Linked DNA regions of Homo sapiens. The protein of the gene in region 1 purifies or fractionates together with the protein of each later gene. This does not show direct contact. Each region holds a gene or a part of one and is shown in the gene's direction. Other genes may lie near its edges.

Region 1 (5,090 bases):
AGCCCTGCCCCACAGCCCAGAGGAATCCATACTGGTGCCCCCAGGGCTTAGTGTCCCCCCTGAGATGAGGCTCCTTCTGCCACTGCTATCTTCCCACTGCCTCCCAGAAAAGCCATTGGCAGTCATCTTGCTGCCCTCTCTGGACTTCTGGACACACAGCACAGACAAACAGAAAGAAAAAAAGTTGTGGAGGGCAGATAAACAGAAGGCTGAGATGTTCCCACCATGGCAGGACAGTGGCTCAGGAGATAGTGAGGCCCAGCAGGCTCCAGATCGCCAGGGAACGGGCTGACATCACAGCACCTGGGTTCTCAGCACAGTTGCCGTAAGGAGGGATTTTATCTCCTGCTCCCTCCACTGGAAGCAACAGCAGGGCCACAGAGGAGAGCCTTGTCACTGGGCTGCTCAGCCTGCTTCCAAAGGGCAAGATGCTTTTCTGCTCTGTGTGCAATATCTCCAACACCTGTGTAACCCCAAGCCCTGGAAGTCAGATTCCCTTAGACCCCAGCAAGGGCCAAACATCATTAGGAGGGTAAATCTGCTGCCCCCAAACCCTAGTCCTTTGGAGGTTTGCCAAAGGAGATTGACAAAGATCTGAGCCCAGCTGCCATGATGAAGCCCTGGGCTCCAGGTGTTGCTGTGTTTTGTGTGGACTTAGCACCGCTGACATTGACAGCTAAGGACTGGCCCCAGGAAGAAAGAATGATGGGGGCACTAGATGGCTTTGGAATCTAGAGGCATGGGGCTTCTTCTGGAGGAGTTTGTTCTGGAAAAAAAAAAAGACACATTCTTCAATATCCCAGTCTGCCCATTGGCATGTTGTCCATAGCAGTCCTACCACACACTAGGCCCTGTGATAAGTGCTTTCTCTGTATCATCTTCCAAATAGCCTAGTGAAATGGACAATTGTAGTCTCATTTTACATTTGAGATAGCTGAGGCCCAGAGAAGTGAGGCCAGTCAAGTTCATGCAGCCAGGAAATGACAGATTCAAACTCAGGTCCCAGAGGTGGCCCTGGAAGACTTCCCAGGCTGATAGTGTGGTGGTGCCTGCGCTCATCTTTCCCGATGCAGCCCAGGTGCCTCTGCTCTCTTATTAGCTAGGGTAGGTGGTAGGCCAGGAGCCTGTCGGGCCGGGCAGAGGCTCAGGCCCATGCCTCTCCTTGGTCCCCAGTCTGTGGAAAACTGCATGTGTGTTCTGCACAACCTCTCCTACCGCCTGGACGCCGAGGTGCCCACCCGCTACCGCCAGCTGGAGTATAACGCCCGCAACGCCTACACCGAGAAGTCCTCCACTGGCTGCTTCAGCAACAAGAGCGACAAGATGATGGTGAGCACAGCATCAGCAGGGCGGGGCCTGCCCCATCAAGCACCCCCCCAGGAGCCACTGCCTCATCTGCCCTTTCCTCTGGGCCCTCCTGGAGCCTGAAGCCAGCCCTAAGGGACAGGCCCATGCTGACACCTTGGCCTGGGGCTCAGGGTGCACTCTGGGAGCTGGGTAGAGGCCATTCATCTTGCACAAGGGGGAATCTGTTCTTGGAACTGTAGGGGCTCAGACCACCTTAGAGGTCAAAAACTCCAGCCTTCTGTTTGCAGGCCTTGGTCTTTCTTCCTGTATAGTGGGTCAAGTCTCCCCCATCTTCTCCCTTGCCCTTGAGGATCTGAGGAAAGCCAGAACTCTCACTCTTTCTGGCCTTGGTTCCCACCATCTCCTGAGCCCTGCCAGGTTTCCCCAGAAGCAGAAGCCTACCAGGGATGGGTTGTCAGGTCTCCTTCACTGGGCCCAGCTGTGGAATCCAGGTCTCAGACCACCCTCTTTGGCCCAGGGTGGGTCAAACCTACTGTCTGAGTCTGGAAGAGGAGGAAGCATCATGATGGGAGAGTCCAAAGCAGCCCCACATATCTGGAAGGTTTGGGCCAAGGCTGCCCTGGAACACAGCTCCCAAGATGCCAGGATGCTCTCTTCTCCCACATCCTGGGACAGTCTGGGGGACCATGGCCCATTCCTGCATCCCATGGAGCTGCTGCAGTGCATAGAGGAAAGGGGTGCAGCGGGGCTGTCCTGGGCCCCCTGCCTCTGCAGGCGCTTCCTCAGCTTGCCCTATCTGGAACCACGACCCTGAGGCTGGGGGGATGGGGACAGAATGCCTGGGTTGTGTCCTCTCACAAGGCTCCCCATTGACCCCCCTGACCGGCTCTTTATCCTCAGAACAACAACTATGACTGCCCCCTGCCTGAGGAAGAGACCAACCCCAAGGGCAGCGGCTGGTTGTACCATTCAGATGCCATCCGCACCTACCTGAACCTCATGGGCAAGAGCAAGAAAGATGCTACCCTGGAGGCCTGTGCTGGTGCCCTGCAGAACCTGACAGCCAGCAAGGGGCTGGTGAGTGGGACTGTACCTTCTCTACTGCAGCAGCCCCATCCTCCAGCCACCGTCCAGCCTCTGCTCCCTCCTTTTCCCCCCAGCCTGTCCCCTGACTTCGGAGCCTCCCATGAGCAGAGTGTGCCTGGCATATGCTGGGCTCTGGGCTGGGCAATGGGGAAACACTCCTGCCCTTTAGGAGCTGCTGGGGGATGCAGAGAGGGTGGGCCCACTGATGCTGGATTCTGTCCATGCACACACAATCCCCTTGGCCACATGGCTCCCGGTCCCCAGCTGGCCTCCTGGGCTCTGCTTGAGGTCGGGGAATGCGGCGGAGAAGGTGTTTGGCAAAAGGAGTTTCCCATTTGTTGAACTGACAAAGGTGGAAAAAGAGGGTTTGGGGTCCAAGCAGGTCCAGAGAAGATGTGACAGAATCCGTGCAGATGTTGAGGCCAAATGTATGTAGCTTGGAGGGCACAGTGGTATGGGGCAGAGCCAGAGGAAACCTGTTGCAATCAAGAAGAGTTGAGATGGGCCAGGCGGCCAACTGTTCTTCAGCTTTACTTAGGAAAAGGGAACCGAGCAGCAGCAGCACTAGAGTAGACCGAGGGCAGAGAACTTCCCTGGCTGTGAGGAGAGAGGCTGGGCAGTTCTGAGAATGCCAAACCCACCTAGACCTGTTACACCCAGGATAGCTATGTTGCTTAGAGGCCTGGGCGAACTGGCCTACCTCTAGGGGACCCCAGTTCTCTCTCCATGTGGGCCCAGACCCTTTCTTAGCCCTCTTTTCTCAGGCAAGCCCTCAACAAATATGTGTTGGATTCTAAAGAGGTAGGAAAGTTGGAAGAAGATGGCCAGATGTTTAATTGACAAATACCCTTGACCATATAGTTTCACATGGGCAGATAGCGTGGGGAGATGTAATGGGGGCAGCGCTGAGACAGTGGGGTGAGAGAGCAGCATTGGACGCTTGGGTTACTCTGGAAGCTAACTCTGGGTCACTATGAGTAGGGGAAATGAGACTTCCCTCTCTCCACCCATCTGGGCTGCAGGCTGATCCAGGAGACAGGATCAGGGCTGGGAAAGGGGAGGTGCATGTTAGCCTAGGTTTCTGTAGTTGCCCACATGTGAGCTAGTGCTTCCAATATGAAAGAGAAAGGGTTCTGGGATGTCTGCCTTTGGGGCTCCTTGCCCCTTTCTGCCTGCCATGGTGCCTGGGAAGCCACAGGCTAGCTCATCATCTACTCCTTCTCTCTTAGATGTCCAGTGGCATGAGCCAGTTGATTGGGCTGAAGGAAAAGGGCCTGCCACAAATTGCCCGCCTCCTGCAATCTGGCAACTCTGATGTGGTGCGGTCCGGAGCCTCCCTCCTGAGCAACATGTCCCGCCACCCTCTGCTGCACAGAGTGATGGGTAAGGTCCCTCTCTCTCCTCCCCCTCTAGCTAAGACATGGCAGGCTCCCTACAATTCAAGCCTGCTTGAAGGTCATCCTTTAAGCCATTCCCTGGGATGAGCATTCCAAGAAAGGAAGCTGGCCAAAGACAGGTATGGAGACAGGAGAAGGGAGCCTGTCACCTGAGGGCTGGGAGCAGATCTGCAAAAGTCCTATCTGGGTCTCTGAGCCCTGAGTTGGAGCTGCCAGGAAGCCCTGAGGGCCACCTGGCTCAGAGCCCGGCAGAAGGCTATCGAAGAGTGTGGCCCCAGAGGGAACCCCTCAGCCCTTCCTTCCCCAGTCATCCTGACCCTGTGCCCCAACTCGTTCCTCTCCCAGGGAACCAGGTGTTCCCGGAGGTGACCAGGCTCCTCACCAGCCACACTGGCAATACCAGCAACTCCGAAGACATCTTGTCCTCGGCCTGCTACACTGTGAGGAACCTGATGGCCTCGCAGCCACAACTGGCCAAGCAGTACTTCTCCAGCAGCATGCTCAACAACATCATCAACCTGTGCCGAAGCAGGTGGGCGGGGGGTTGCTCCCACGGGCTGCACCCCAATCAGAGCCCCTCCTCACCCTGCACAGCAGGAAGCAGTCCCGCAGCTCTCCATGGAGTAGGGGAAGCACCAAGGGCAGGGGGAGCCAGGGACGGGGGAGGCTTGAATGGAGGAGAAGTTCCAGAAGCCGAGAGTGCGTGGAGAGAAGGGTCCAGCATCCAGGCCCCAGGGCTGCATGGAGGGAAGAGGCAACACACTTCCTGGCTGGGGGACTCGGGGGCACAAGGTCCTCAGAGGGCCAGCAGGAGGCATGGGGCAGCAGGTCCAACTGAATAGGGACTTTATCCTGCTCTGTGGGGCTCTCTCTTCCCCGGACAAGGCTGGGGACTGGAGTGGAAGAGCACTGCCACCTCATGGCCCCTGAGGAGAGTCCTGGGGTGCTCTAGGTGGGCAGGGGCATGGGGTTGTGCCCACTGGGTAGGGTGACCAGGCTCACCACACCCCAATGGGGCTCCTCTCTTTTGCACACCTGAGGCCTCCTCTGAGGCCTCCCCTGTGTCCAGGCCCTGGCAGTGGGGGTGGGAGGGAAGAGGGTGCTCCTTCTCACACCTCCTGGAATCTCATCTCACAAATGCACTTCTCACCTGCCCAGTGCCTCACCCAAGGCCGCAGAAGCTGCCCGGCTTCTCCTGTCTGACATGTGGTCCAGCAAGGAACTGCAGGGTGTCCTCAGACAGGTAAGAGCCCAGGACATCATCCTCTTCTGAGGTTCTTCCTGCTCATGAGCAGAGGG
Region 2 (5,090 bases), on another chromosome or scaffold:
CGCCTCCCTGTAAGCTCCGCCTCGCGGGTTCACGCCATTCTCCTGCCTCAGCCTCCAGAGTAGCTGGGACTACAGGCACCCGCCACCATGCCCAGCTAATTTTTTTGTATTTTTATTAAGACGGGGTTTCACCGTGTTAGCCAGGATGGTCTCGATCTCCTGACCTCGTGATCCGCCCGCCTCAGCCTCCCAAAGTTCTGGGGTTACAGGCGTGAGCCACCGTGCCCGGCAATCTTAAGTAACTTTTTGACAGAATATCTGACACTGAGGAGGCAAGCCTTTGGAAATAAAGTTGCCTGGATTTTAAAAAAGCAGGAAATCCAAATGGTATTTATTGTAATTTGGAAATCTTAAATTTGGAGATCATCTGCTTGCTTGATGTTACTTTCCACAGACTTGTTGGAAAAAGATTTATCAGATGTTTGTGTTTCAGTACTGAGGTGGTTGGAACAGTAAACATCAAGATATCAAATACAGATTACATCCTGTCTCTTTAGGGTTTGGTCAGAGAAGAGGAGGCATAGGAATCTGTCACAGTTCTGCTTGCTGCTTTACTTTCTTGTTTGTGAAGCTCTTCCCTGTCATTTAGTATTATGGGGCACCTGTTACAGCATTACAGTTAATGGTCTGTCAGAATTTGCATTATAAAACTGGTTTTCCTGTGAGGTTTATAAAACAGTTATAGAGGGAAATATGACATATTAGCGAACACACCTTGCTTTTTATTTGGGTTGGCATTAAGAGGTTTAGCTTGATTGTTAAAACGGTGAAAGTTACGTCACGTTTAAACTTATTTCCTCCCTTGTACAAGCCTTTAGAGAATTGGCACCATATTCAACAATACTTTTTTTTTTTTTTTAAACATGAAGGGTGGGTTTGCTTGGAGTTTCTGGTTTCTTAGAAGGTATCAGCAATCTTAAATTAGGAAAGTATTTTAATTCCTGAGACAGGTAAGTTGTTTCCTTAAAAGTCTTAAATCTGTTTTCTCCGTTTTCAAGTCCTTGCAGCACTTTATATGACCATGTATTTACAATCTGGACAATTCTTTTTATGTTTGTGGAATGTAATATCTCAGAAGTTGAGATTTAGTTGAGTCTATTGAGTCTATTGTCCTTTGCCTAGTGTATTTCTCATATGAAAACTTTGGTTTGTGATCATGAGGGTGTATGCATTATTTTTATTTTTTCTTTTTTTGCAGTTCATAGCCCTGATGAAGCAAGTTACTCTGCTCTCCTAATAAATGCAAGAAAATGACCTTGGAGGGCCTTTTTAATTACACATAGAAGTGACAATTTGTAAGTTTAAGGTTGGGTGTCATGGAATAGAATGGAAGAAATTGATGCTAAAAACTTTGGCTATGATGGGGCCTTTCCTAGCCCAGGACTTGAATGATTATTAAGGATCCTTTCCTCACCTCAAAGCACAAACATAAAGATTACCAGACTTGGACTGGAAAGCCTTTATCACTAGGAAAGGGGCCATGTATTTTTACGTTTAATCCCTTAGACCCATAGTGTACGATGTGCACACAGTAAATGTTCAGTGACCAAATTTTGGTTACTCTAAAACGAATTCAGTATTTACTTTTTGCCTTTAGTTCTTCAGGTAGAGGTAGGACATAATGTGATAGAGAGCAGTTGAAGAAAGTTAATTTTTAAAACCTTAGATTTTTTTGGGCTTACTTGTTGAGGGAAGTAAACTACATTTTCTCTCTCTTTTTTTTTTTTTGAGACAAGTTCTTGCTCTGTCACCCAGGGTGGAGTGCAGTGGTGGGATCTCGGCTCACTGCAGTGGGTTCAAGTGAGTCAGCCTCCGGAGTAGCTGGGATCACAGGCGCATGCCGCCGTGTCTGTCTAATTTTTGTATTTTTAGTAGAGACGGGGTTTTACCATGTTGGCCAGGCTGGTCTCAAACTCCTGACCTCAAGTGACCCACCTACCTCGGCCTCCCAAAGTGCTAGATTACAGGTGTGAACCACCATGACTGGCCAGTTTTCTATTACTTTGAAAGCGCTCACAATTGACATCTGTCTCTTTGTATTTTTTGTTAGAGAGATGAGGTTTCACTATGTTGCTCAGGTTGCCCAGGCTAGTCTTGAACTCCAGAGCTGAGTCCTCCCGCCCTGGCTTCCTAACTGCGATTACAAGTGTGCACCTGTGTGGCTGGTGGAAGTAATATTTTAAACTATTGATCATTTAGTGTCTCCTGTGCAGGAGATTTTATTATTTTGAGAATTCATGGCATCTTCCATGAGAGTTTATAAGGACTTACTTTAAGTGAAGATTTCAGTGGTGTGGGTCCACACTGAGGCATAAAATAATCTTTTTGTTTGTTTGTTTCCCACTTAAACCAGGGTAAGGAACAAGAAATAGCAATGTTATTAGCAAGTTGCTTGAGGTTGAACTTCATGGCTTGCTTTAATTTAGCACAAAGTACACTAAATGCAATTTAAATTTTTTATTGATTACTCTTTGTCATAATCTTTACGAGCATCAGTTACTTCCATGTGGAAATGCCATGATGCACTTAACATATAGAGGCTGAGTGTTGGTGGTTGTAACTTTTTAAGTTGGGGACACTTGACACTGAAACCCATGGAAGCTCTCCCCCAGAAAACATGGGTGTTTCCTTAAGCACATCCTTGGATTCTAGTTTAAGTGTTTAAATTCTGGTGACTTCTTTTTATGATTTCTCTGTGATCCTTTTACTGCCACTGTTACCATGTATTGTAGTTAAAATGCCTGTTGAGAACAGTGATTTTTCTGCTTATTGGTCATTAACTTGAAAATCAAATAAGAAGCCTGTTAGAAGTTTTTAAAACTTGTGTACACTGGCTCCAAGTAGGAGCCTCAGGGGTTTTCTTTTGAGAAAAACCCACTGGTTTTACTGTGGCCTTTATTTAAGTTGCTTAGAGGTCTCCTCAATGCCTTCCTTTTGATTATTCTAGTTAGGGACTTCTTTTTTTTTTTTGAGATAGAGTCTTGCTCTGTTATGCAGGATGGAGTGCAGTGGCATGATCTGGGCTCACTGCAACGTCTGTCTCCTGGGTTCAAGCAATTCTCCTGCCTCAGCCTCCCGAGTAGCTGGGATTACAGGCGTGTGCCACCATGCCCTGCTAATTTTTGTATTTTTAGTAGAGACGAGGTTTCACCATGTTGGCCAGGCTGGTCTCGAACTCTTGACCTCAGGTGATGCACCCGCCTCAGCCTCCCCAAGTGGTGGGATTAGAAACGTGAGCCACCATGGCCGGCCATAGTTAGGGACTTCCTAAGGAGTGATTGTGTCTGATCCTTAATTTTGTAAGCTTTCGGTTGCTTGTCCAGCACCTGGTAATTGATTCACATTGAACTAAACACGCATAATGGTGGTTTATAAACATCATACTACTGATCGGTTGATTTATAGGACAGATCAGTTGCCTTTCTCTGTAAAGAGCCAGGTAGTCAATATTTTAGGTTTTGTGGGTCATATGGTCTGTCGCAACTGCTCAAGTCTGCAGTTGTGCCAGAGCAACCATGGGCAAAATGAATGTGAAAGTGATATTTATGGATATAGAAATGTAAAATTTTTATGAATTTTGTATGTCATGAAATGTTCTTTGGCCCTCTACCCTCAACCATTTCAATATGTGAAAATCACTCTTAGCTCAAAAACCATACAGAAACAGGCTGTTGACCCCTGATTGGTTGATTGATTGATTTGAGACAGGGTCTCACCCTGTTGTCCAGGCTGGAGTGCAGTGGTGTAAATTCCAGGGCTCACTTGATCCTCCCATCTCAGCCTCCCCAGTAGCTGGGACTGCAGGCATCCCACACCAGGCCTGGCTAGTTTTTTGTATTTTTTGTAGAGATGGGGTTTGCTATGTTTCTTTGTTCTCGAACTCCTGAGCTCAAAGGTTCTGCCCACTTTGGCCATCACTCCCTGGCCTCCCCAGATTTATAGTAAGACACAGCAGCTACTTGATTGTTTCTGCTGGTGGCTGAGCTCCCTTCTAGGAACCTGAAAATGCAAGTTGAAATTAGAAGTTTGTTTGGAGGTAGTTGGCTACGCTGAGGGCTGTGGGTTGTTTTTGTTTCGCTCTTTTTGCCCAGGCTGGAGTGCAATGGTGGTTTTTTTTTTGGGGGGCAGGCTCTCTCTGCTGCTCAGGCAGTAGTGCAGTGGCACGATCACGGCTCAGCAACCTTCTGGTCTCAGGCAGTTCTCCTGCCTTAGCTTCTGGAGTAGCTGGGATTCTGATCCTAGATCCCTTTTGAGGATAAAATGTGTAAGAACAAATACCTTGGTCATCTCTCACACCCTCCGGGGGGGTCAAGCTAAGAAGACCTGTGTAAGAGGATATGTATTATAAGATTGTGTTCCACTACAGAGGGAGATAATGTCAAGTAGGGTGTATGTGTCACAGCAATCAGAAGTTAATGCCTACCACTCCGGGAGAACTCATACTCCTGTGGTAGTGTTTAAGGAACTGCTGACACATTCTTCCAGCTTTACCTTTTGTGTGCTTCACTATGCAAAATGAATGGCATTTGTGACCATCTTGCCATGAATCTGTGTTTCAGTTTTCAAGTTAACAGACTGTTGTTCATTGATTACATTTTCAGTTTTTGCTCTCTGATAACGTATCATGGCCTTAGTCATTCACATGACCTCTTTTTAAATCCCAGTGTACATCCAGGAGGAAGAAGCCCATAGTCCAGGAATCTGGGAGGAGGTGGCTGGCACAGGAGGAGAGTGCCCCTCCACCCACCTGGGGAACTGGTCTTTGGTTCTTCCACTGCCTTTGCACTAGATCTACTTATGTGTGTTTGTGCAAGTTGATAAACATGCAGAAATCCATGTACTCCTCTTTAAAAGTAGGAAAGGTGGATTAAATTATTTTAAATTGTTTTTGAAATCCTCTCTAGCTCTGCAGTTAATTATGATTTTATGGGTTTCTTTTGGGAAGATTTCTTTTTTTTTTTGAGATGGAGTCTTGCTTTGTCACCCAGGTTGGAGTGCAGTGGCATGATCTTGGCTCACTGCAACCTCCATCTCCTGGGTTCATGCAATTCTCCTGCTTCAGCCTCCCAAGTAGCTGGGATTACAGGCAT
Region 3 (4,758 bases), on another chromosome or scaffold:
TTTCTGTGTGTCAGGAATTGAGGAGTAGATTAGCCCAATTGTTCTGGCTCAGGGTCTTTTCTGAGGTTGCAGACAAAATGTTGCATGGCTGCAGTCACCTGAGGGCTTGACTGGGTCAAGGGAATCTGCTTCCAAGATGGTGCACTTCACATGACTGTTGGTAGGAGACCTTAGAATCGCTCCACATATGCCTCTCCATGGGGTTGTTTGAGCGTCCTCACAACATGGCAGCCGGCTTTCCCCAGAGCAAGCAATCTGCAAAGAGGAAGCCACAGTGTCTTTTATGACCTAACCTCAGGAGTCCCACCTTGCACTGCTGTCATACTCTTTTCATTAAAAGTGAGTCACTGAGTCTAGCCCACACTCAGTGGGAGGGGATTAGGCTCTTCCTTTGGAAGGGAGGAACCTCAAAGAATTTCTGGCCGTATTTTAAACCCACCATAGTCTGACAGCAATGTTTATTAGAAGACATTCTCTTATAATGCTGGTGTTACTTACAGAATCAATACGTGACTCACATATGCTCACTCAGGCTTTGCTTGTATGGAAGCATCAGTTTCTGCAGAGTGTAATGTGGCTGTGCATACCAATCAGGCAGGCAGGTGGGAAGCAGAAGAAGGTGGAGGAGACACAGCCAGGGACAGGATGGTGTACTGCTCTGTTGTGGTGGGGGAGAAAGGGAGGCCAGCAGAGACCTGTCCTTTTCTGGCTGAATAAGACTTTTGCCAGTTCTAGTTCCATTATCTCTGAGAACTATTTGTTAAGCTTATTCAGACTGCAATGAACTATATTCTTTACTCAGAGGGACAACGATTATCTCAAAGTAAGTCATAAAAGCTGCAGAAAAAAATTAATTTAAATTAATGTTAGTTTTAAAATTCAATATATTCCACACGGCACTTCTAGCAGGTAGTAGAGAAGGGTTTTAAATAAAGTAATAGAAGTTGGGTTTTGCAGTTCCTAGATGGTGGAAGATCACGGAATGAATATCTACCCTTGCATAAGCCTTTCTTCCTCTTGCCCTCCCTGCCATTGTTAGGGCTACTTGTAGCCCCTAAATTTTCCAGAAACTGAAAGTGAGATGAGATGGGCTCCTTTTCCAGCTCCATCACTCCCTGAGTCTCTGAGAAGCTTGAGAATGAGAGCCTGGTCTGTAGCTGTCCAGTAAACATCTGCTAGCTTATCTGCCCCTAAATGTGCCCAAAGGGAGGAGGGCCAGATGTGTTAATGAACATTTACTTGTTCTTCTTTATATGAATACAAGCTCTTGGTCCCTCCTTTCTTATTCAAGGAAGGAGATTGTACAGCAGACCTCACGAACTATCTGCAGTCTCATATGGTATCCATCTGTGCCTAAGGAAGACTGCTTGTGATTAAGACTTTTGACCTAAATAGTAGGTCTCTGCCCATGTCTGCAGTATAATCATCTTTCCTCGTTTGGCATTTTGAATGTGTAGCTTTTTTTGTTTTTTTTGCATGACATTTTTTTTGACGTTACATTGGATGTGTAGTTAACTTTTCCTGGTTGGTTGTACTCGTAGGATCTCTATGACGCTGGAGTGAAGAGGAAAGGAACTGATGTTCCCAAGTGGATCAGCATCATGACCGAGCGGAGCGTGCCCCACCTCCAGAAAGGTGGGCACTGTGCTGAGGGAGTCTCAGTGCCTTGGGGCCCTGGCTGGGGCGGCTGGGTGGATGTCCATGTTGGGATGGAGTCTGCCAGAATGAGGTTCTGTCTCCGCTTGGCACTCTCATAGGCTCACCCATTTTCCCTCACCTTTCTCTCCCATTCTGGATTCTTTTCTCTTGCAAATAGTTTCTGCATTTGGTGCTTTATTCTGCAGCTCCTTCTTGTTTGATGATCATTTGGTCTTGCCATTATTTGTTGAAGTAGTGGACTTTGGTGCATGCTCTGTACTGTTTCCTATGGTTTTCGGATGGAATGGGTTCCACTCAGGGGAGATAGAGATGGTCCAAATATGTGGCCTGGGCAGTGCCATTCAGGACAGGTGGTATGGCTGTTCCACGACAAACTTGGCCAATGTTGGCTCTGGTCACCGTGGTAACCTCTAAGCTCCTAGGATGCTGTGATCATCCTCAATTTTTAAAAAAATTATGGTGCATAAAACTAGGTGGGTGATCGTTGACAGCTTTGACTAGTGGCTCGGATCTGATAACTCTTTGTTGTTTTTCCTCAGTATTTGATAGGTACAAGAGTTACAGCCCTTATGACATGTTGGAAAGCATCAGGAAAGAGGTTAAAGGAGACCTGGAAAATGCTTTCCTGAACCTGGGTAAGTGAATGTGGCCCCCATTCCTGGTAGACATCAGCTACCAGAGCAGAAGTGACAGATGGCCATCCTGTTAATCCAAATGTGTTTGGGAGGTGTGGCTTCTATGCATGCTTTGGATAGTTTTACAGTCTTAATTGTATAGATTTCAGAATATAAAACTGAAGAAAGGCCTAACTTGGTAACAGATTGTTGCCAGGGAGGAGTAAGAGAACAGGAGGAGAGAGGGGTGTGTTGTGGAAACTCACGTATGCACTTGGGTTCTGCAGGCCTCAGAGACCCCTGGTTTAAAACCGTGGTGGAACTTAGTATTGCAGAGGATTTCTAGATTTCCCTTAGCCTGTCCTATTTTGCAGCCCTTTTCCATTGCATTAGGTCACTTCTGGTTTGTGGCCCAGGGCCAGGGCATCCTCTCTCATTGGTAGAGGAGAGACCAGAGCAGCTGCAGCGCTGACTCCCTTTCTTCTCTCCACAGTTCAGTGCATTCAGAACAAGCCCCTGTATTTTGCTGATCGGCTGTATGACTCCATGAAGGTAAGGGCAGCTGGCTGAGAGAGCTGTGTTTCCACACTCAGCTTTTCTTCTTTTGGGTCCCAAATTGAGTCTCCTTGATTCATGGATGGAGGAAGGGGACCCCACTGTGTGGATGCAGGAACACACTAGTCAGCTGTGGTTGTATGTGACAGCTGAGAGAACCACAAATCTGTCTTCTTTCTCTCAGCTGCTTGAACATGTATTTGCGTACAGACAAAAAGTAAAGTGCCATGGGAGAGAGAAAATGCGACATGGTAGTCGTGTCTGATCCCTGCTTAGGTTTCTCCGTGATTTCTTCCTGTTACTGCCAGAGTCAAGACAAGCGAGGAAGGGAGCGATTATTAAGCACCCACTATACAGTGGACAAGTGCTACTATTTTACCTTAAATCATTGCATAACAACCTCTGAGGCTTATGATTATCTTCTTTATAAATGCAGAGATGGAGCTCAGAATACCTCAGCCTGCTTGAAGTTACACAGACAGATTTGAACCTGGGTCTATCAGACCCCAAAGACAGCCCCACAACCCTTCCCTAAACGAACCACCTCTTCCCGTAGACCCATCCCATTTTCTACACCTCAAGTGTGCCATGTGTTTTCTGGCTTCTAGGCTTTTGCATTTTCCTTCTGGAACATCTCCCTTGTCTGTGCTGCCTCTGCCATCTGTCTTTGAGTTCCATATCAAATAGCACCCCTTGGTGCCTTCGCTCTGATGCTCTGGAAGTAAACTCAGTGGTCTTTATTGCACATATCATTAGAAATGGCACAGAGCGATGATAGAAATGTGTTGGCATGTTCCCTCTAAGCCTGCAAGAGTCAGGAACCTCTTGTTACATATGGAGACTCAGACTGCTTGAACTGAGCCTTGCAGTAGTAGGTGCTCAGTATATATTTATTGAATGGTGGCATAGAGTGGGAGTCTGTGCTGACTACAGCCTGGTGTGTTTGGAATTCCCAGATGCTCTTCTTTCTTTTCTTTTCTTGTCTTGTCTTTTTTTTTCTTTCTTTTTTCCTCCCTCCCTCCCTGCCTTCCCCTGCCTCCCTGCCTTCCCCTCCCTCCCTGCCTTCCCCTCCCTCCCTGCCTTCCCCTCCCTCCCTGCCTTCCCCTCCCTCCCTGCCTTCCCCTGCCTCCCTGCCTTCCCCTCCCTCCCTGCCTTCCCCTGCCTCCCTGCCTTCCCCTCCCTCCCTGCCTTCCCCTGCCTCCCTGCCTTCCCCTCCCTCCCTGCCTTCCCCTGCCTCCCTGCCTTCCCCTGCCTCCCTGCCTTCCCCTGCCTCCCTGCCTTCCCCTGCCTCCCTGCCTTCTCCTGCCTCCTTGCCTTCCCCTGCCTCCCTGCCTTCACCTCCCTCCCTTTCCTTCCCCTCCCTCCCTTTCCTTCCTTTCCCTTTCCCTTTCTTCTCTCTTTCTCTCTCCTTCCTTCCTTCCCTTTTTCTTTCTTTCTCTCTTTCTTTCTCTCTCTCTCTCTGTCTTTCCCTCTCTCTCTCTGTCTTTCCTTTCTTATAGGTTTTTGGGAAACAAGTAGTGTTCGGTTACATGAATAAGTTCTTTCGTGGTGATTTTTGAGATTTTGGTGTACTTATCACCCAGGCAGTGTACACTGTGCCCTAATATCCCTTATCCAAAATGCTTGGGACCAGGAATGTTTTATATCTCAGATTTATTTTTGATTTTGTAATATTTGCATATATATGATGAAATATTTTAGGGATGGGACCCAAGTCTAAACTTGAGATTCATTTATGTTTTATATAGACCTTACACACATAGCCTAAAGGTAATTTTATACAACGCTTTTGATAATTTTGTGCATGAAACAGTTTGTGTTAAGTGCTGTATGTGGAATTTTTCATTGTGGCATCATGTCGGCACTGAAAAAGTTTTGGATTTTGGAGCATTTTAGATTTCAGATTTTCAGATCAGGGATGCTCAACCTG
Region 4 (5,090 bases), on another chromosome or scaffold:
ATTGACTTCTGTGTTCTTGATGTTTTAAGAGTGTTTGCTTTGTAAACTACATTAAAACATCACCTTGTAACCCATAAATGTATAAAACTATTATGATTTGTCAATTTAAAAAAAATTTTTTTTTAAAAAGAGTATGTGCTAAATGTAAGTACACTAGTTTTTTTCTTTCTAATCCTTTCTTCCTAACCTTAAGCGAACGTGAAGGAACGAGCATTATCTACATTTTAAACCATCCTTTTAGGGGTCATTTTAAGGATCTCACATTCTTTTTTTAATCTCTCTCTTTTTGAAACAGGGTCTTGCTATGTTGCCCAGAGTGGAGAGCAGTGGCTATTCATAGGCATAATCATAGCTCACTACAATCTCAAACTCCGGGGCTCAAGTGAACCTCCTGCCTCAGCCCCTGCCAGGGACTGCAAGTGCATACCACCATGCTTGGGTTTAAGCATCTCAAATTCTATCTGTGATGGATGTGTTTTCATTAATGAAGGCTTTCTTCATTTTATTGATAAACACAGAAAACATCTTTTATTTCACTTTCCTTTAGCTTCTTAAGAATTCGAGGGTAAGATTCAAGTCTGTGCTAATTTTTTGCCTCCTGACACAGTACCTGGAGCAAAGCAGATGGGCAACAAATCTGTGCCCGGCTATAAATGGATGTCCGGAGGGGCATCCACTTATGGATAGGAGAGTGGTGTTGTTCAGAAGAGGAGGACTTGGGCAGACACCTCAGCTGCTTGTCTGCAGAAGTAGCACTTAAGTGTTTTCATGAATTAAAGATTATAATTTTTTTAAACATACCTTGATTTCGTATAAAATTGAACATTTTATAGAATTTTTTTTGAAACAATGGATTTTAATGTCAGTCATTTTCTTTGTTATACTCAAAATTCTGTCCCATGGTTTTTAAGTTTAATTTTTTTATTTTGAAGTATCACAAAGAATATAGATATCATATGTTCAGTTTATGAGAATGAGTAAAGTGGATAGACAGGTACTACGATTCAGCTTAACACATAGAATATTTCCAGTAGCTTAGAATGTATGCCCTTTTCCTCTCTGGAAATTATTTAAAGAGCAGTTATAAATATCTCTTGGTAAATGTGCCCAATTTACAAAATCTCTTTCTAATGTGACTATTTTTAGAAATTTATTTCAGTTATTCAGTTCTTTTATAAGAGAGAATATTATCTTAGGATTTTAAAGCCTTCTGAATTTTTTTTTAAGAACAAGAGTAATAATATCACTGAAGAAGTACATCAACATATAACATTAATAACATTAGTTATATATAATGTTATTAATATGTTATATGTATAACATTAATTATATATATTTACTTATATATATAACATTTTATGTATGACATATGTTATATATGTTATTAATAGTTATATGTATAACATGTTATTAATAGGTATATATAACATATATAATATATAGTTATATATATAACTATAACATATTAATAGTTACATATATAACTATTATTTGCTTTTATAGGTTTGTTTAATCCAGAAAATCATTGGACAGTCGTTGAGGAACTTCTATATCCAAGATAGTAGTAGGGACCAGAAAGATATTTAAATATCTAAATATTCTGGCCCCTGCCCTCAAATCTAGTGAATAAAGACATGGTGTATATAGGAGAACTTTCAAATGTATAATTGTTTTACCTGAATTGAATGTCAGTAGCTAATTTGCATATACATAAACTTTTTATTGGTGATTACCATATACACATAATGAAGACTTCCTTCTTCTTTTGTTCCCTTTCATTAGTTGATATCTAGTATATTCATGTGAGAAAGTTTTACCATCTTTTTAAAGATAATAATGAGGTTAACTGAATGAATATAGTAGTGATCCATACCTATCCTCTCTAGCATTTTTTGATATATGAGAAAATCACTTTACCAATTGCTGTTATTTTAATATCACAATAATTGGGTTAATTGCTGTTTACAGGTGATTTCTAGCTTGTCTCATGCCATAGGCAAGCAAAAGGAAAAGATAGAGTTGATGAGAACATTCTTCCACTGGCGAATCGGCCATGTCAGAGCCAGACAGGATGTAAGTGTCAAAGCAGAAGACAGCTGATGGATGTTAGACTTCTGAATTCAGAAGTGCTCAGGATCACTTATTATAGTTGTTTTCTAATAAGTCAAAATGAATTTGTGATTTAATGTTCCTCTTATTTCAAAGGAATTTGATTTTGATGTAGTTTGGAAAAAATACAGTTTAGATCTTATTGACATATAATATATATATATTACAATAGATACATCATTTCCTGCTTCATAGTAGGTTAATAAGGATTGTTCCTAAATTGTAAAGGCCCTGGTAATAGAACCCCCTCAGATGTGGTTATTGGAGAAAGAAGTTATGTTTAACATATCAAATGCTTCCTATATTGTTTCTACTTTTAAAATGCCTGAATACAACTTATTCATAAAGAGGCTTTACTATATTTATACATTAAATCACAGTATAAATGTTTGTTATGTAGACTTGCCTTAGAGTGAGAGTCAGAGAAAGCCATACCTGTACAGCTTTTTAAAAGTTATCCTTAGCTTGTAGTATATCATTTAAACTTGAACATCTTTTATTTTAAGTAAGAGCTGAGTTGGTATATCAGTAAATAGTGAACTGAAAGAGAATACTAAATTGTTGTATCAAAAGTGGAAAAGTATGAGTATATCCCACAACAAGACATAGTTTAGAGACACATGAATATAGGAGATGAATATATATATATATGCTTTCCATGTATATTCATGTGAGCTATGGAATAATCTCTGTGTATTTAGTTTCCAAGAGATTAGTATTTAAGGAAAAAGCTAGTACAGGTTGAGTATCCCTTATCCAAAATGTTTGGCACCAGGAGAATTTTGGATTTTAGATTATGTTTCATATCACACCTTATGCACAAAATTCATTTATGTTTCATATTTCACCTTATACATATAGCCTAAGGTAATTGTATACAATATTTTTAATAATTTTATGCATGAAACAAAGTTTGTGTTAAGTACTTCTGTGTGGAATTTTTCACTTGTGGTGTCATGCTGACACTCAAAAAGTTTCAGATTTTTGGATTAGAGATGCTCAACCTACTTTATCCTGGAATAAGATTTCTCCTTTAAGAATACTTTCTGGATTTTTCATTTTTTTAATTAATCCCAGTAGATTAAATCCACATTAAGTAAGCTGGTTAAAATGAATATTTATACTCTACTTTGAAACTTGTCAAGTGAAATAATGAGAATACATATTTATTTTTAAATGTTAGCCAGAATAGTTGAGGCTACTGTCACTTTTGGATAGTTTTTCAAACTGAAGAAATTGAGAATTGGAACTACTTCTTCAAAAGAATTTAAATTCATTGATAAAAGAAAAATAGCATAAGTTTTTATTTGGATTGGCACCATATATGATGGCAGGGTTTATAAATTAAATCTTGCTTGTGGTGGCCATCAAACTGAAGAGAAAGCAGTGTCATCTGAAGCCACAGCCACCACCATTTCCTGCCTTCTAGCCACTCTGTTATTCTCCTGGTCCTGCTAAATTCATAACTAAGATGGCAAGTGGTGATTTGCTCATTTTCTTTCATTTGGTTGTATTCTTTTTCTCTAACTTGATTAGTTGCATAAAGCAATGATGTAATGGATAAGAGCTCAGTCTCTGGAGTCAGGCAAGTCTGGCTTTACTCATCTACTTATGTGAACTACGTAGCTTGCTTAACCTCTCTAAGCCTGTTCTCCTATATGCAAGATGAGAATAATATGATTACATAGAATTAAATAATGTGTATATGTACACTTACCACCATGTTATGTTTATTATTACTACCAATATATTTATCAATCAACTGTGTTTTTGAAGTTATATTTTACTTTTATTTAGGTTTATGAAGGTAAACTAGCTGACCAGTACTACCAGAGAACTTTACTGAAGAAAGTCTGGAAAGTCTGGCGTTCCGTAGTGCAAAAGCAGTGGAAAGATGTGGTAGAAAGAGCTTGTCAAGCAAGAGCTGAAGAAGTTTGTATCCAGATTTCCAATGATTATGAAGCCAAAGTTGCTATGGTAAGCATCTTTTTCTGGTTTTCACTTTCTTCTAATACAATAAAAAGATAGATAGACTCACTATTAATTAATAGACTTCTTCTTTTGGTCTTTAATCAAGAATGCAGACAAAAAAATGAAAACGTTTATTCTTGTGTTAATTTAATGTTTATTGTATATTCTTACATGGTTGATATAAGGAGTTGTATAGAAATTGAAATTATTAGTTGGGCGCGGTGCCTCACTCCTGTAGACCCAGCACTTTGGGAGGCCGAGGCGGGCAGATCACCTGAGTCAGGAGTTTGAGACCAGCCTGGTCAACATGGTGAAACCCCGTCTCTACTAAAAAAATTAGCTGGGTATGGTGGCACATGCCTATAATACCCGCTACTCGGGAGGCTGAGGCAGGATAATCTTTTGAACCTGGGAGGCAGAAGTTGCAGTGAGCTATATCACACTGTTGCACTCCAACCTAGGCAACAAGAGCAGAAATCCATCTCAAAAAAGAAAAAAAGAAATTGAAATTATTTTTTCCCATTGACTTTTAATAATAAAATTAACATTGTTTTCATGGGAAAACATTTGGAATTGAAATGAAATAAAATCCATTCTAAAGAATGCAATAGGCCTCTTGAAGTTAAATATTAAAATGAAAAAATAACTCATTACAGCATTAAATTGTTAAGATTAAAAATAAATCCATAATACAAATAATTTTCTGCAGTTCACTACGACATGCAAAAAATGCAGTCCCCTGAGGTTTGGCCTATGGGAAAGTGTGTTGTACCTAGGGTCACTCTGCACTTCAAATACTGAAGGTAACATTTACATTATAAAAATTCTGTTAATATTGCAGGCATGTAGTTTATTTTATTTTTTTCTGAAAGGGCTGTCTGTGGCTCTTAATGTATTTTGTTTAACATCCTACATAAAAGTTTTACAGTAAAAAATGGTGTATCTTTTTGTGAAATGAAAATACATCAGCAATATTCAATGGGACTGGATAAAATTCCCCTTGTTTGAAC

Evidence for each region.
Region 2: the proteins of PKP1 (region 1) and JADE1 purify together in Homo sapiens (affinity purification with mass spectrometry; one large-scale study listed by BioGRID and IntAct). This does not show direct contact.
Region 3: the proteins of PKP1 (region 1) and ANXA2 purify together in Homo sapiens (affinity purification with mass spectrometry, with the first as the bait; one large-scale study listed by BioGRID). This does not show direct contact.
Region 4: the proteins of PKP1 (region 1) and POC5 purify together in Homo sapiens (co-immunoprecipitation; one large-scale study listed by IntAct). This does not show direct contact.

The regions. Positions count from the first base shown.
Region 1 is NC_000001.11:201,320,805-201,325,894, forward strand, and holds part of PKP1 (plakophilin-1), read left to right. Parts: intron 1-1,173; coding exon 1,174-1,329; intron 1,330-2,208; coding exon 2,209-2,385; intron 2,386-3,623; coding exon 3,624-3,777; intron 3,778-4,136; coding exon 4,137-4,323; intron 4,324-4,949; coding exon 4,950-5,034; intron 5,035-5,090. UniProt on the Homo sapiens protein: A component of desmosome cell-cell junctions which are required for positive regulation of cellular adhesion.
Region 2 is NC_000004.12:128,815,169-128,820,258, forward strand, and holds part of JADE1 (protein Jade-1), read left to right. Parts: intron 1-1,279; exon of another isoform or gene 1,280-1,295; intron 1,296-5,090.
Region 3 is NC_000015.10:60,349,260-60,354,017, reverse strand, and holds part of ANXA2 (annexin A2), read left to right. Parts: intron 1-1,541; coding exon 1,542-1,635; intron 1,636-2,198; coding exon 2,199-2,294; intron 2,295-2,766; coding exon 2,767-2,825; intron 2,826-4,758. UniProt on the Homo sapiens protein: Calcium-regulated membrane-binding protein whose affinity for calcium is greatly enhanced by anionic phospholipids. It binds two calcium ions with high affinity. May be involved in heat-stress response.
Region 4 is NC_000005.10:75,689,379-75,694,468, reverse strand, and holds part of POC5 (centrosomal protein POC5), read left to right. Parts: intron 1-1,968; coding exon 1,969-2,073; intron 2,074-3,906; coding exon 3,907-4,086; intron 4,087-5,090. UniProt on the Homo sapiens protein: Essential for the assembly of the distal half of centrioles, required for centriole elongation. Acts as a negative regulator of centriole elongation.